Regions from separate parts of the Homo sapiens genome. Here all the other regions are linked to region 3. The links come from fine-mapping of genetic effects on gene expression. A gene starts in region 3. Each other region holds a variant in brackets. All regions are shown on one strand. Distances are between the middles of the regions. Region 1 has its middle 19 kb from the start of FGF6. Region 2 overlaps FERRY3 (FERRY endosomal RAB5 effector complex subunit 3). Region 3 holds the start of FERRY3 (FERRY endosomal RAB5 effector complex subunit 3).

Region 1 (4,362 bases), 74 kb after region 3:
TTTTCTTTTCCACAATCTCACAAACCCTTGTTATTGTCTATGTTTTTTATTATAGAGCCTTTCTAGTGGGTGTGAAAGGATATCTTATTGTAGTTTTTATTTGTATTTCTCTAATGACACCTCATCTATCACCTCATGCATTTATCATTTCTTTGTGGTGAGAACATTCAAAAGTCTCTCTTCTAGCTATTTTGCGATATACAGTATTTTACTATTAGCCATAATCACCCCACCATACAATAGAACACCAGAACTTATTCCTCCCATCAGTGGTGACTTTGCTCCCATTGACCAACCTCTCCTCATCTGCTTCTTCCCCTTCCCCTTCCCAGTCTCTGGTAACCACTGTTATACTCTCTGCTTCTATAATATCAACTCTTATGTTTTTAGATTCCATATATAAGTGAGATAATGCAGTATTTGTCTTTCTATGTCTGGTTCATTTTACTTCACATGGTGTCTTCCACGTCCATCCATGTTGTCATGAATGACAGGATTTCATTCTTTTTATAGCTGAATAGTATTTCATTGTGTGTGCGTATATATATATATATATATTTCTTTCTCCATTTATCTGTTGATGGACACTTACATTGATTCCGTATCTTCATATCTTGGCTATTGTAAATAGTGGTGCAATAAACATGAGAGTGCAGATATCTCTTTGGCATACTGATTTCATTTCCTTTGGACTTACACTTTGTAGTAGGATTGCTGCATAATATGGTAGTTCTACTTTTAATATTTTTAGGAAACTCCATGCTGTTTTTCATAATGGCTGTACTAGTTTACAATTCCACCAACAATGTGTAAGTGTTCCCTTTTCTCCACATCCTCACTAACACTTGTTTTCTTTCATCTTTTTTACAACAGCTATTCTAACTGGAGTGAGATGGTGGCTCACGGTAGTTTTGATTTGCATTTCCCTGATGATTAGTGATGTTGAGCATTTCTTCATATGCCTGTTGGCCATTGGTGTGTCTTCTTTTAAGAAATGTCTATTAAGGTCTTTTGCCCATTTTAAAATCAGACTTTTTTTGTTTTGCTTTGCTTTGTTGTTGTTGTTGTTGTTTTGCTGTTGAGTTCTTTGAATTCCTTATCTATTCTGGATATTAATCCTTGACAGATGTATACTTTGCAAATACCTTCTCTCATTCTGTAGGTTGTCTCAACTCTGTTTTTTTTTTTATTTTTGTTTTTGCTTTGGAAAAGCTTTTTAGTTGGATATAGTCTCATTTGTCCATTTTTGCTTTTGTTACTTGTGCTTTTGAGGTCTTATTTAAAGACTCCTTACCCAACCCAATTTGTGAAGTAATTCCCCTATGTTTTCTTATAGTAATTTCATAGTTCTGGGTTTTACGTTTAAGTCTTGAATCCATTTTGAGTTGATTTTTGTATACGGTCTTGTATACGTAGTTGGTTTTGTACATGTAGAGGTAGAGGTTTAATCTGAAGACCACCTGCTGCAGAATCCCTTCTTGCTCAGGGGAGGTCAGTCCTTTTGTTCTATTCTGGCCTTCCACTGACTGGGTGAGGCTCACTCACATTATGGAGGAGAGCATGCTTTATTCAAAGTTTACCCATTTAAATGGTAAACTTATCTAAAAACAGCCTCGCAGGGACATCCAGAATAATGTTTGACCTAATAGCTGCGCTCCGTAACCCAACAAAGTTGACACAAAATTAACCATCACAAATGACTATGCATTTATTTAGATCTTTTAACATTTCTCTCAGCAATCCTTTGTAGTTTTCAGTGTGTAAGTTTTGAATGTCTTTGGCTGAATTTATTCCTAAGTATTACATTTTTTTTGCTGCTATTGTGAATAGAATTATTTTCTTAATTTCACTTGTAGGCTGTTCGTTATACTACCAACTTTTTTGTGGTGGTGTTGTTGTTGTTGTTGTTAACTCCTTGGGACTTTCTCTCCAGAGAATCATATTCTCTGCAAATACAGTTTTTCTTCTTTCTCTCCAATATAGAAGACTTTTACTTCTTTTTCTTGCCTAATTGCACTGGTTAGAACCTTTAGTATAATGTCAAATAGAAGTAATGACAGCAAATATGTTTGACTTGTTTCCAATATTAGGGTGAAAGTATTTAATCTTAAACCATTAAGTATAATGTTAGAATAGGTTTTTCACAGATGCCCTTTACCAAGCTTAGGCATTTCCAGTTTGTTCTTGATTTTCTGAGAGTTTTCATTAGGAATGGATATTAATTCTGTCAAATGCTTTTTCTGTGTACATTGAGATTATCATAACCTTTTTTTGTTTGTTAAATGGTGAATTACATTGGTTTTTGAATGTTAAACTAAGATTGCATTTTTGGGAAAAATCCCATGAAGTTATGATATGTTATCCTTTTATATATTGTTGTAACTGATTTGCTAAAATTGTATTAAGAATGTTTGCATCTGGCCGGATGCAGTGGCTCACGCCTGTAATCCTAGCACTTTGGGAGGCC[G/A]AGGCAGGCAGATCATGAGGTCAGGAGATCGAGACCATCCTGGCTAACATGGTGAAACCCCGTCTCTACTAAAAATACACACGCAAAAAAATTAGCTGGGCATGGTGGCGGGCGCCTGTAGTCCCAGCTACTCGGGAGGCTGAGGCAGGAGAATGGCGTGAACCCAGGAGGTGGAGCTTGCAGTGAGGCAAGATTCTGCCACTTGCACTCTAGCCTGGGCAACAGAGCAAGACTCCGTCTCAAAAAAAAAAAAAAAGTTTGCATCTATGTTCATGAAAGATATTGGGCTATAATTGCTGTTGTTTGCTGTTATTATTTTAATTCTAACGTTTTTATCTGGGTGTGGTAAAAATGCTGGTTTAATTGAGAAGTATCCTCTTCATCAATTTTCTGGAAGAGTTCGTGTAGAACAGATATTATTTTTTCCTTAAATGTTTGGTAAAATTTACCAGTGAAGCCATGATCTACTTGGGTAAATGTACCATGTGCCCTTAAAAATAATGAGTATTCTGCTATTACTGGATGGAGAGCTCTTGAAATTCATATTAGATAAGATTTGTTGATAACCTCCATCCCTACTAATTTTCAGTTTACGTGTTCTATGACTTATTGAGACAGAGTATTGAAATCTCTGACTGTAGTTGTGGATTTGTCTATTTCTTTCTGTAATTATATCAGTTTTGCGTCATGTTTTCTAAAATTCTACTATCAGGTGCATAAATAGTTATGATCGTTATGCTCACTTCTATTATTTGACCCCTTTTCCATTATGAAATCACCTTCTTTGTTGCTTATAGCATTCTTTGCTTTGAAATCTATTTTGGCACTCCAGCTTTTAGACACTCAAGCTGTCTCTTGATTTATTTTTGAGATATTTGTATCTTTATATTTACAATGGCTTTGTTCTAGGCAACATACATCATCATTCTGTTTTATCTAATATGCCAATCTCAGCTGTTAATTGACATATTTGTACTATTTGTATTTAATGTGATTATTGGTATGACTGAGTTTAAATCTAACATCACTATTTTTCTATTTGTCTTATCTCTGTTCCCTTTTTCTTCTTTTTCTGCTTTTCTTTGAGTTAACTGAGTACTTTTAAACATCCCATTTTTGTTGACTTATTAACTGTAAGTCTGTTATTCTTTTAATAGTTGCTTTACAGTTTATAGCACATTTTTAACATCACAGTCCACCTTCAAGTGTCATTCTATTACTTCCTGTATAACATAAGAACTTTATAACATTTGTCTCTTCCTGAACTTTCTGCTATTGTCATAAATTCTATTTCTACATGTATTATAAACTCTACGCTACATTGTTATTATTTGTGTTTAATCAATTATGTCTTAAATATACTTAAATGACTTTTTAAAAAATCTTATATATTTGCCAACATATTTACCATTTTGGGTGCTTTTCATTCCTTTATGTAGTCTGCATTTCTATCTGGCATCATTTTTCTTCTTCCTAAAGGACTCACTTTAATATTTAACTCTTACTGGCCGCAAATGTCATCATTTTGCCTTTTTAAAATATATTTTGTTAGGCATAGAATTCTAGATTGACTGTTTTCTTGCAGTATTTTAACGATGTTGGTCCCTGTCTTCTTGCTCTCAATATATCCTACAAAAATGTATGGTCATCCTCAACTTTGTTTTTCCCTTTGGTTGCTTTAAGATTCTTTTTTTTTTTTTTTTTTTTTTTTGCAAGATGGAGTCTCGCTCTGTCGCCAGGCTGGAGTGCAGTGACACGATCTCGGCTCACTGCAACCTCTGCCTCCCAGGTTCAAGTGATTCTCCTGCCTCAGCCTCCCAAGTAGCTGGGACTACAGGTGCGTGCCACCACACCCAGCGAATTTTTATGTTTTTAGTAGAGACGGGGTTTCACCA
Region 2 (4,000 bases), 43 kb after region 3:
CATAAACTCAGATAATAATTCTTATATCTGAATTCCAAGACATACAGTGAAGACTTCAAAAGAACATACTGGCTAACTCTGCAGTTCAGCCTTACCCTAATGAGAGGATTCAAGTTGAGTAACAGTGAGCTTTAGATAGAAGGCGTTGTCTCAGTTATAGTCAGAACTGAGATTTCAATTTCATTTTCATAGGTTTAGAATCTTCTTTGCACATGTCATCTAAAGTGTGACAGTAGGGCCCAATTTTTGGCCAGTTATAAAGTCTATAGTGTTTCACCTGATCCTTCCAGCTTCATTGGATTTCTCTAACAGTGCATTCTCACAGGCATGTTACTAAGATTTAGTCACTTTTCCATTATTTAGAACTTATGATCAAAAACTTTCTGTACTGTTACCTGGCCCACTATGTTGTCTATACCATCTATTATATCATATATACTAAGATTTGTTTCCAGAAGTGAGCTCCTTGTGAAACTGCTGACCACAACTCATGGTGACATTGAATAAGTCATTCTTCTCATGACCTTATTGAATTCTAAAGCTCACAGTTTACTTTTTCTAAGTACCCAAAGCCATTCTTTTTAGGTGCTGGTTTTAATCAGAGACAAAAGGACAGGATTAAAAAACCTTGCAAGCATCTATCTTAAGCTAACGGTGGAGTCTCTATGGAGGCACATGGAAGATTTGAAAACAACTCAGACGTATGTGTGTGTGTGTTTGTGTGCGTGCACATGCATATACAGGTAGCTGTCTAGTTTCCTCTTAGAGTCATACGCTGCTAAGTGGCATTAAGTTAAAGTATACTGAATATGAGAGTTTATATCATCTGAGAATTAAATTTATTTTTAAAATATGTCCGTCACTTCAAAGATTTGCTAGGGTCCTGTCACAAATTGGTATTTTGGTATATTCTCTAAATAGCATTGATGAAATTTTGTCATTAATTCATACCAAATTCTGAAAAGTGTGAAGTTCTTAATTTGTATCACAAATACTTGCTCTAGACCATGCTATTAATCACACATATACACAAAGCAAGAAAGCAGGGTATTAATGAGGAAAACGTGATGACCTTTGGACAAGTGGGACAACGAACTTCATTACTCTTCCCCTACCTACTTTTGGTCATACCATTTAACCCATCCCTATTTTAACTTGCGTTACAATCTTTCATTATTACCATTAGTATCCTAATTTTAATGCATTGGAATAATATGTATTCTATTTGTGGGTATTCAAAACTAGCCCTTCAATAAGCTCTATGCTTACAGTTCACATTAGTTGTCCTCCTGTGACTAGTGGTGCTTAGACTTGACCTTAGCCTGAAATAATTCAAGGCTAATCATAGATGTCAGTAAATTCTGGATTATAAGAAAAGTTACTGTCAGAAAATGCTTTTTTATATTTAAAAATGAGTGCTTCATTAAAACAGTATAAATAGTACTAATTCCTTGATTCTGATTACTATCATAGTATTTCAAAAAATGATTGGTTTTAGAGTAATATTTTAAGATGATACAAATAGTTATACAATAGTATTTATTCCTACATGTGGGTTCTTGAATAAAATGTTTAACGTAAGTGAATAAGTAGGTCCTTAATGAAATTAGATGCCGTGAATGAGAATCAGCAGAAACAACTGAACATAAAAACAGATGCACAAAGACTTGAAGCACTGGAATTATAAAACACAGACCATACAATAGTTGATTACTGTGTTTAAAGAACTGAAGACAAGCTTGAAATGCCTTCAAGTAAAAAGATGTTATGAAAAGTGATCTGGCAACTATAAAACATTGCTGAGAGATATTTTAAAAGACCTAAATAAATGGAAATATATCC[C/T]GTACTCATGGATTGGAACACTCAATATTGTCAAGATAATAGTTCTAAAATTGATCTATAGATTTAAATCTCAATTGGAATTCTTATAAGGTAATTTTGAGATTTTGACAAGCTAATTCTAAAATGTATATGGAAATGCACAGGACCTGAAACAGCCAAAACAATTTTGAAAAAGAACAAAGTTAAAGAACTTACACTAACTAATTTCAGAACCTGCTATGAAGTTACAGTAATCAGTGCAATGTGATATTGGCAAAAGAATAGACTGTGGATCAGAAAACAGAATAAAGCATCCAGACATAAATCCATACATATATGGTCATTTGATCTCCAGCAAAGATGCCAAGGCAATGCAGTGGGAGAAAGGATAATCTTTTCAGTGTTGTTGAAACAACTGGGTATTCGTATAGAAAAGACAATCGTAACCCTTACATTATATCATATATAAAAATTAATTTAAAATGGATCAGACCTAAACAAAAGAGCTAATATTATAATGCTTCTAGAGGAAAACATAAAAGAAAATCCTGATGACATCAGGTTAAGCAGGTTAAAATTTGTTAGGCCACAAAGGCATAAGCCATAAAAGACGAACGTAATAAATTATATTTTAAAATTCAAAACTTTAGCTCATCAAAAGATGCTATTAAGAAAATGAAAATTCAAGCCTCAGGCTGTCACATAAGCAATTCGCTGTACCTCTCTGAGCATCTTTTTTTTTTAAATTTATAAAGGTTATTTTTGTTAGATTATTTATATTGTAAAGTTCCATGTAAACATAAGACATTATTATTGTAGTTTTTAGAGCCATCAGCATTGCTCCGTAGCGGTAGACATTTATTTATTTATTTATTTTTTGAGACGGAGTCCTGCTCTGTTACCCAGGCTGGAGTACAGTGGCGTGATCTCAGCTCACTGCAACCTCCGTCTTGCAGGTTCAAGCAATTCTCCTGCCTCATCCTCCCAAGTAGCTGGGATTACAGGCGCCCACCATCATGCCCAGCTAATTTTTGTATTTTTAGTAGAGACGGGGTTTCACCACGTTGGCCAGGCTGGTCTCGAACTTCTGACCTCAGATGATCCGCCTGCCTCGGCCTCCCAAAGTGCTGGGATTACAGGTGTGAGCCACCACTCCCGGCCAGCTGTAGACATTTCTTAGTCACCTCGTTCTCTCTGTACATCATCTTTTCACTAGGAGGAAGTAATACAAAAAAACCAAACACTTGTCCCTCCATGCATGTGTGTACTCCATAAGACCACTGTAGCTCTTTTGTAGCAGCCTTTGCAGTTAGAAGGAAATACTCTTCTTTCTGTGAACTTTGAAGCCAAAGTGTTATAACTTAAAGTGGAATATCAGAAAATTCTAGTGAATTTTTAGAAGCTTCCAGAACCTAACCCAAGAGGATTCTTTACTTTTTAGCCAACTAAAAAACTAGACCTTTCTTTAATCAATCTTAAAACAAAGTGTCTTGGACACAAATTTAAAAGTAGCTTCCTATTAAACCCTATTTCTGGCTACAGAGAAAGTCACATTCTTTTTAAATGTCCATGGATAAAAGCTAATTCACTCAACCTATGTTTTTGAGCATGTGTATTGCTCAGTATTATAGAAGGCATTGTAAAGGTAATAAGGGTGAATAAAAAGTGGCTTCTACCTTCAGAGAGCACACAACTTAATCAAGAAGAGAAAGAATAAATCCCATTCTTCTGCCCATTCCTCTGCCCTCCTCCCCAAAAACGACAGGATAAAAATGTGAGCATTGAGATAAAAGAACAGTAAAGTACTTTGGGAGTTCAGAAAATGGAGACATATTTGTAGCTGGAAAAATAGGAAATACTGTATGGAGGAGATGGCAATTAAGCTGGACATTGAAAAATGAAGATCAGGTTCAATAGATGGAATTACCGAGAAGGGCATTGTAGGTAGAAGAAACAGATTGAGGAAAAATGGAGGGAGGTGGGTGACAGGCATTGCAGACCATGTTTAGGCAAATGTGAGCAGATATACTTGAATGAAACCTTCATTTTTAAAAATTTAAAAGTCACAGAAGCTTAAAGTAGCTTTGGCTTTAAAGTATGTAGCCTTAAATAGTAAAAGAAAGGCTTACATATTATGTGTGAGACAGTAGGAAGCAATTGTAAGTTCTTAAAACAGGAG
Region 3 (4,349 bases):
AAATCATATCTTAGTATTGTTATGAAAGGAGTTTTGACCTCATAGACCTCTAGAGAAGTTTCCAGGGACCCACAGAGGTCTGTAGACCATACTTTAACAACTGCTGTTCCTTACAAAGGGATTATGACTCCACTGCCTGGATGCTTAAAACCCATTTCAAATTCAGCATGTTCGAAACAGAAATCTTGATCCCTCACACCTCCTAACCTTCCTTTTCCTAGTCTTCCCTATCTTAATACAAAGATCATCCATCCTGTAGCTCAGACCAAAACTATTGTGGAGTCATCTCTGATTCTTTCTTTCCCTTACCTGTACATCTACTTCATCAGCAAGTTCTGTCCACAGTGCCTCCGAAATACATCCCAAATTCATCTGTTCCATTCCATGCCCACTAATAATACCCTATCCCAAACCGCTCTCCAATGATATAATACCTGATTTTCCTGCTCCCGTTCTGGTCACCCTATCCATCATTTATTCTCCACCAACAGCCAGTGACCTTTATAAAAGCAAACTTAGATTCCTCTCCCCTACTTAAAACCCTCCACTGACTTCCCATTGACTTAAAATAAAACCTAAACTCCTTTCTAAGACTTACAAGACCCTATCTGTTCTGGCACCTGCCTATTTCTCTGGCCTAATCCCCCTACGATTCTCCCCACTGCTTGTTAATCCTATAGCATTAGACTGTCCCTAAAATATGGTCAAGTATGGGGCCTTGGCTCCTATTCCCTCTACCCTGATTCATGACTCAGTGCATGCATTATCGCCTCAGAGTCACATATTAACTACTATATTTAAAGTAGTGCTTTCCTCTTTCGCACTCTCATATTTCGAGGCTTATTTTCGGCCCCCTAACCTCACCTCCCACTGGAATGTAACCTCCAGCACCTCGTACACTAAAGAAGTGAATATATTCAATAACTTTATTAAATGAATGGCTAACTATAGGCTTCCATGGCACTCAACTGTGTAAATAGAAGAATCGTTTCTAATACCACGATGGAAAGCACAGAGGATCTTGAGTGAGATGACTTAGGTTTGAGTATTGCCCTGCCACTTACTGGGCTGTATGACTCAGATAACTTACCCTCTATACGTAGAAATGTTAAATCAATACAACAGGAATGCTTACTCTTTCTATATCAAATAACTACAGTGATAAACAAATAAAATAACACATAATTGGGCGCTCGGTGAAATGTAAAGCGCTGTTCAAACGCTAACAAGGTCTTGGTAAAAGAAACGGCGACGGTTGTGAAGGGAGGCAAAGAGAAGGAAAAAGCTACGATGCTAGGATACTTCTGAGCAACGGGTGGCTCTCACTGGAGACTGGGTTCTTGATAACCGTCCATCCTAACCCCACCATCGCTGCCCTCCGGTCTTACTCGATCCTTTCCCCTTAGTCTCATGTCTTTTCCCTTAGTTTTCCTCCCACCCCCGACGAATGTCAGGAACTACCCACCTCACAGGCCGCACCATGGTCCCTTTCAAGGCTTGGTATTTACAGTTCTCAAATTCTTGTTGGCTTCAGCGGCGGTTTCAATTCCCGCCCAAAACCAGACTTCGGAGCCCTCCGCCCCCTGTTACCAGTCGTCCAATCATCACCAGCCATGCTTGCGGCGGCGCACGCGCTGTGGGGAAAGCGAATTTGCTCCCGCCCTCCCCAAGGCACCGCTTTTCCGTATCCGGTCCACCAGAGCCGAGTTTGTGCTTTGTCCCTGCACTTTCGTCACAACGGCGGATTTGCCCTGTCTCTGAAATACAGAATAACAATAGAAATACACCTTATTGCACCTTTCAAATTGTTAAATTGAAACAGGTTGGGACATAGGGGCACTTGGACTGAGAAATTTTCTACAAGATGCCAGGAAATAGAAAAGGATGTGGCGAATCTACGTTCGCGGATCCGCGGTGTGGAAAAAGTATGTCGGCAAGTCAGCTGGTTTCCCAGTGCAGGACGCGCTGACAGCTCGAGTGAGCGGACTGCCCAGGACTTCGGAACTAGACGAGGTGAGCCCAGAACCGAGTGAGGATGCCCTTTCAGACTGACAACCGTTACAGAGGGATTAGTCCCCTCACCCGGCTGAAGTTTCTCAGCTCGACCGTCTGTCTTCCTTTTCCCTGATTAATGTGAGCCTCAGAGCCTCCGCTCTGTTGGCTGTGTGTGTTCGGTCCAGACCTTCCATCCCATTTTCTTATGGGAAACCTTCCTGGATTTCACGGTTGCTAAAACTGAACCCAGGCTTCAGGATAGACCATTAGTCTAAAAAAAGAGCGAGAGGAGAAAGAACTAAAGTTATCAGTTTCTTGAAACACAAGTCTAAATGTTGAACCAGAGCTTTTGTGTCTGCCTTCTCTTTTTTTTTTCAACATTCCTGATTCATTCATATTTTTGCATTTATCAGTGGTTGATTCTTTTTTATTGCTGTGTAGTATTTATCTCATAAAATAAACAAGTTTACTATTCTCCTACTAATACGCATTTTGGTTGTTTCCAGTTTGGGGTATTATAAATAAAACTTATATGAGCATTCTTCTGGGTGTACTTTAGCGAACATATGCGTGTGTGTGTATTTGGATATATACTTAGGAATGAAATTTCTACATCATAGAATATACCTTTATGTAGTTTTGGTAGTTTTCTAACATTATAAAAATTTGTATTGCTTTACGTTTAATTTTAATTCTTTCTGAGTAAAACAAATACCCTATCTCTTTGCATTATGGTGAAATAGACGAAGATTTTTGTGTATAGCCTACATACAGATTTGAAAATATAGTCTGGATAATTCAACTTAGCCCCGCCCCACGACATGTACAAAAGTCCTTTGAGTTTTTTTTATATTTCAGGTGATATCTTTTTAAATAACCGTATGAATAATTTTTTGTTCTTTATTTTTCCAGTGAGCACCATAAAATAAAAACGCCATACAATCCAACAATTATTTATTAGTTCTTGCCATTCGCAACATCCTGCCTAATACATGGAATACAAGACAGTATTCCTTCCACTTCAAGAAGACTGTTTTCTAGCCAAGAGTAAGAAATAGAGCGTGATAAGTGCCATGATTCAAATAAGTCTAGGCTAATATGAGAGCCTGTCGGGACCCAATCCAGTTTTAGGGAGTTGGATAAGTCTTCCTAGAGGCTTAACTGAGACCTGAAGAATTAGCAATTGTTATCCAATGAAATTAAGATCAGTAAGAGTGCTCTAGGCAAAGGAAAAGGCATTCAAAAAGATTCGGCATGGAAGGAGAAGTTTGGTGTTGACAGAAGTTCAGAATGGCTGGAAAATAAAATTTGTGAATTTGTGTATTAGGAAGGAGAGGTGCAGTTTCTGAGAGAAGAGTGGAAATATAAGCAGGGGTGTTGTAAACTGGGATAAAGAGTTTGCATTTTATCCTGAGAGCAATGGAATGTCATAGAAAGTTTTTAAGCGGATGAACAACATGATCAGATAAGTATATTCCTTTTTTAAAAAGGAAGATTACTATAACTTCAGTGTAGAAAATAATGTAAGAACTGATTTGATGGGAGAAAGCCTAGCCATAGGAAGTCCAGTTACAAGGCTGATGAATAAATAAATCTTTAATTGATGTTGATTCTTACTGCCTTTAACTAGATTTTCTTCTTCCTTAGTAGTGTCTAGTTTGCCTTTGGGGTGTGGGCCGGAAGTGGAGGTCCTGTACTCTCTCTTTTCTGTGTATCTTCTTCCCACATGGAAATCTTTCTAACACTTTCTTACTCCCCTTCCCCCAGTCGGATCTCATGACCACAACCTCTAAGTTCTCCAGGATCACTCCTTGGTCCCTGATCTGCTTCTTTGACTTTCTTTTTACCAACGGTTTCTTAAGCTTTGTATTTCCCCACCCATGAACTCTCCCTAAGAATTCTCTCTGCTCTTCTCTCCATGGTCCTTCCCTATTATTGAGAACCCTGCCTTGGAATATAAAGTACTTTATGGCCATAATTTTTTTTCTTAAATCAAGTTTAAAACAAAGTGTCTTTTTTTTTTTTTTTAAAGAAGCACTTTGTTTTCATCATGAAGATGGAAGTACAGGGATAAACACTTGGGAAAAACTAGAATAATTGGCTCATAGACAAAATCTCTTGAATGGTGGAATGTTTTCTTAGAAATGGGACAGCAATAATGAAACATAATTTCTTTATGGACTTATAACCTACTGCTTTTTTGTTAGTTCTGTAGAAATCCTGTCAAAGAATATGAAGAAAAACAGAGAAAGATTCTGCAATAGAGAGAGAGAATTTGTATATAAATTTAAAGTAGGAAGTCAGTGCTTAGAACTGAGAGTGCCACTCAAATTTCCTGTTCAAGAGAATGCCAG

Evidence for each region. PIP is the estimated chance that this variant, and not a neighbour inherited with it, causes the effect. A credible set is the group of variants that fine-mapping cannot tell apart.
Region 1: its variant is the best candidate, but not a certain one, in a credible set for the expression of FERRY3 in whole blood (INTERVAL, PIP 0.63).
Region 2: its variant is the best candidate, but not a certain one, in a credible set for the expression of FERRY3 in blood mononuclear cells (TOPMed, PIP 0.76).

Annotation. Positions count from the first base shown.
Region 1 is chr12:4,462,279-4,466,640 of GRCh38, reverse strand. No RefSeq gene overlaps it. Among named protein-coding and RNA genes, the nearest start is that of FGF6, 19 kb to the right of the region's middle. The variant G/A (reference allele first, on the strand shown) is at 2,468.
Region 2 is chr12:4,492,793-4,496,792 of GRCh38, reverse strand. All of the region lies in intron 11 of FERRY3 (FERRY endosomal RAB5 effector complex subunit 3), which reads left to right. Among named protein-coding and RNA genes, the nearest start is that of FERRY3, 44 kb to the left of the region's middle. The variant C/T (reference allele first, on the strand shown) is at 1,843.
Region 3 is chr12:4,536,073-4,540,421 of GRCh38, reverse strand. FERRY3 (FERRY endosomal RAB5 effector complex subunit 3) reads left to right here and starts at 1,953. Exons shown (of 14, transcript NM_020374.4): 1 at 1,953-2,013; 2 at 4,203-4,349. The coding sequence starts at 4,228. It overlaps RAD51AP1 (RAD51 associated protein 1), which reads right to left and starts at 1,532. Exons shown (of 9, transcript NM_006479.5): 1 at 1,466-1,532. The coding sequence starts at 1,482. RefSeq lists enhancers at 1,100-1,708, 1,709-2,318 and a silencer at 1,924-1,973.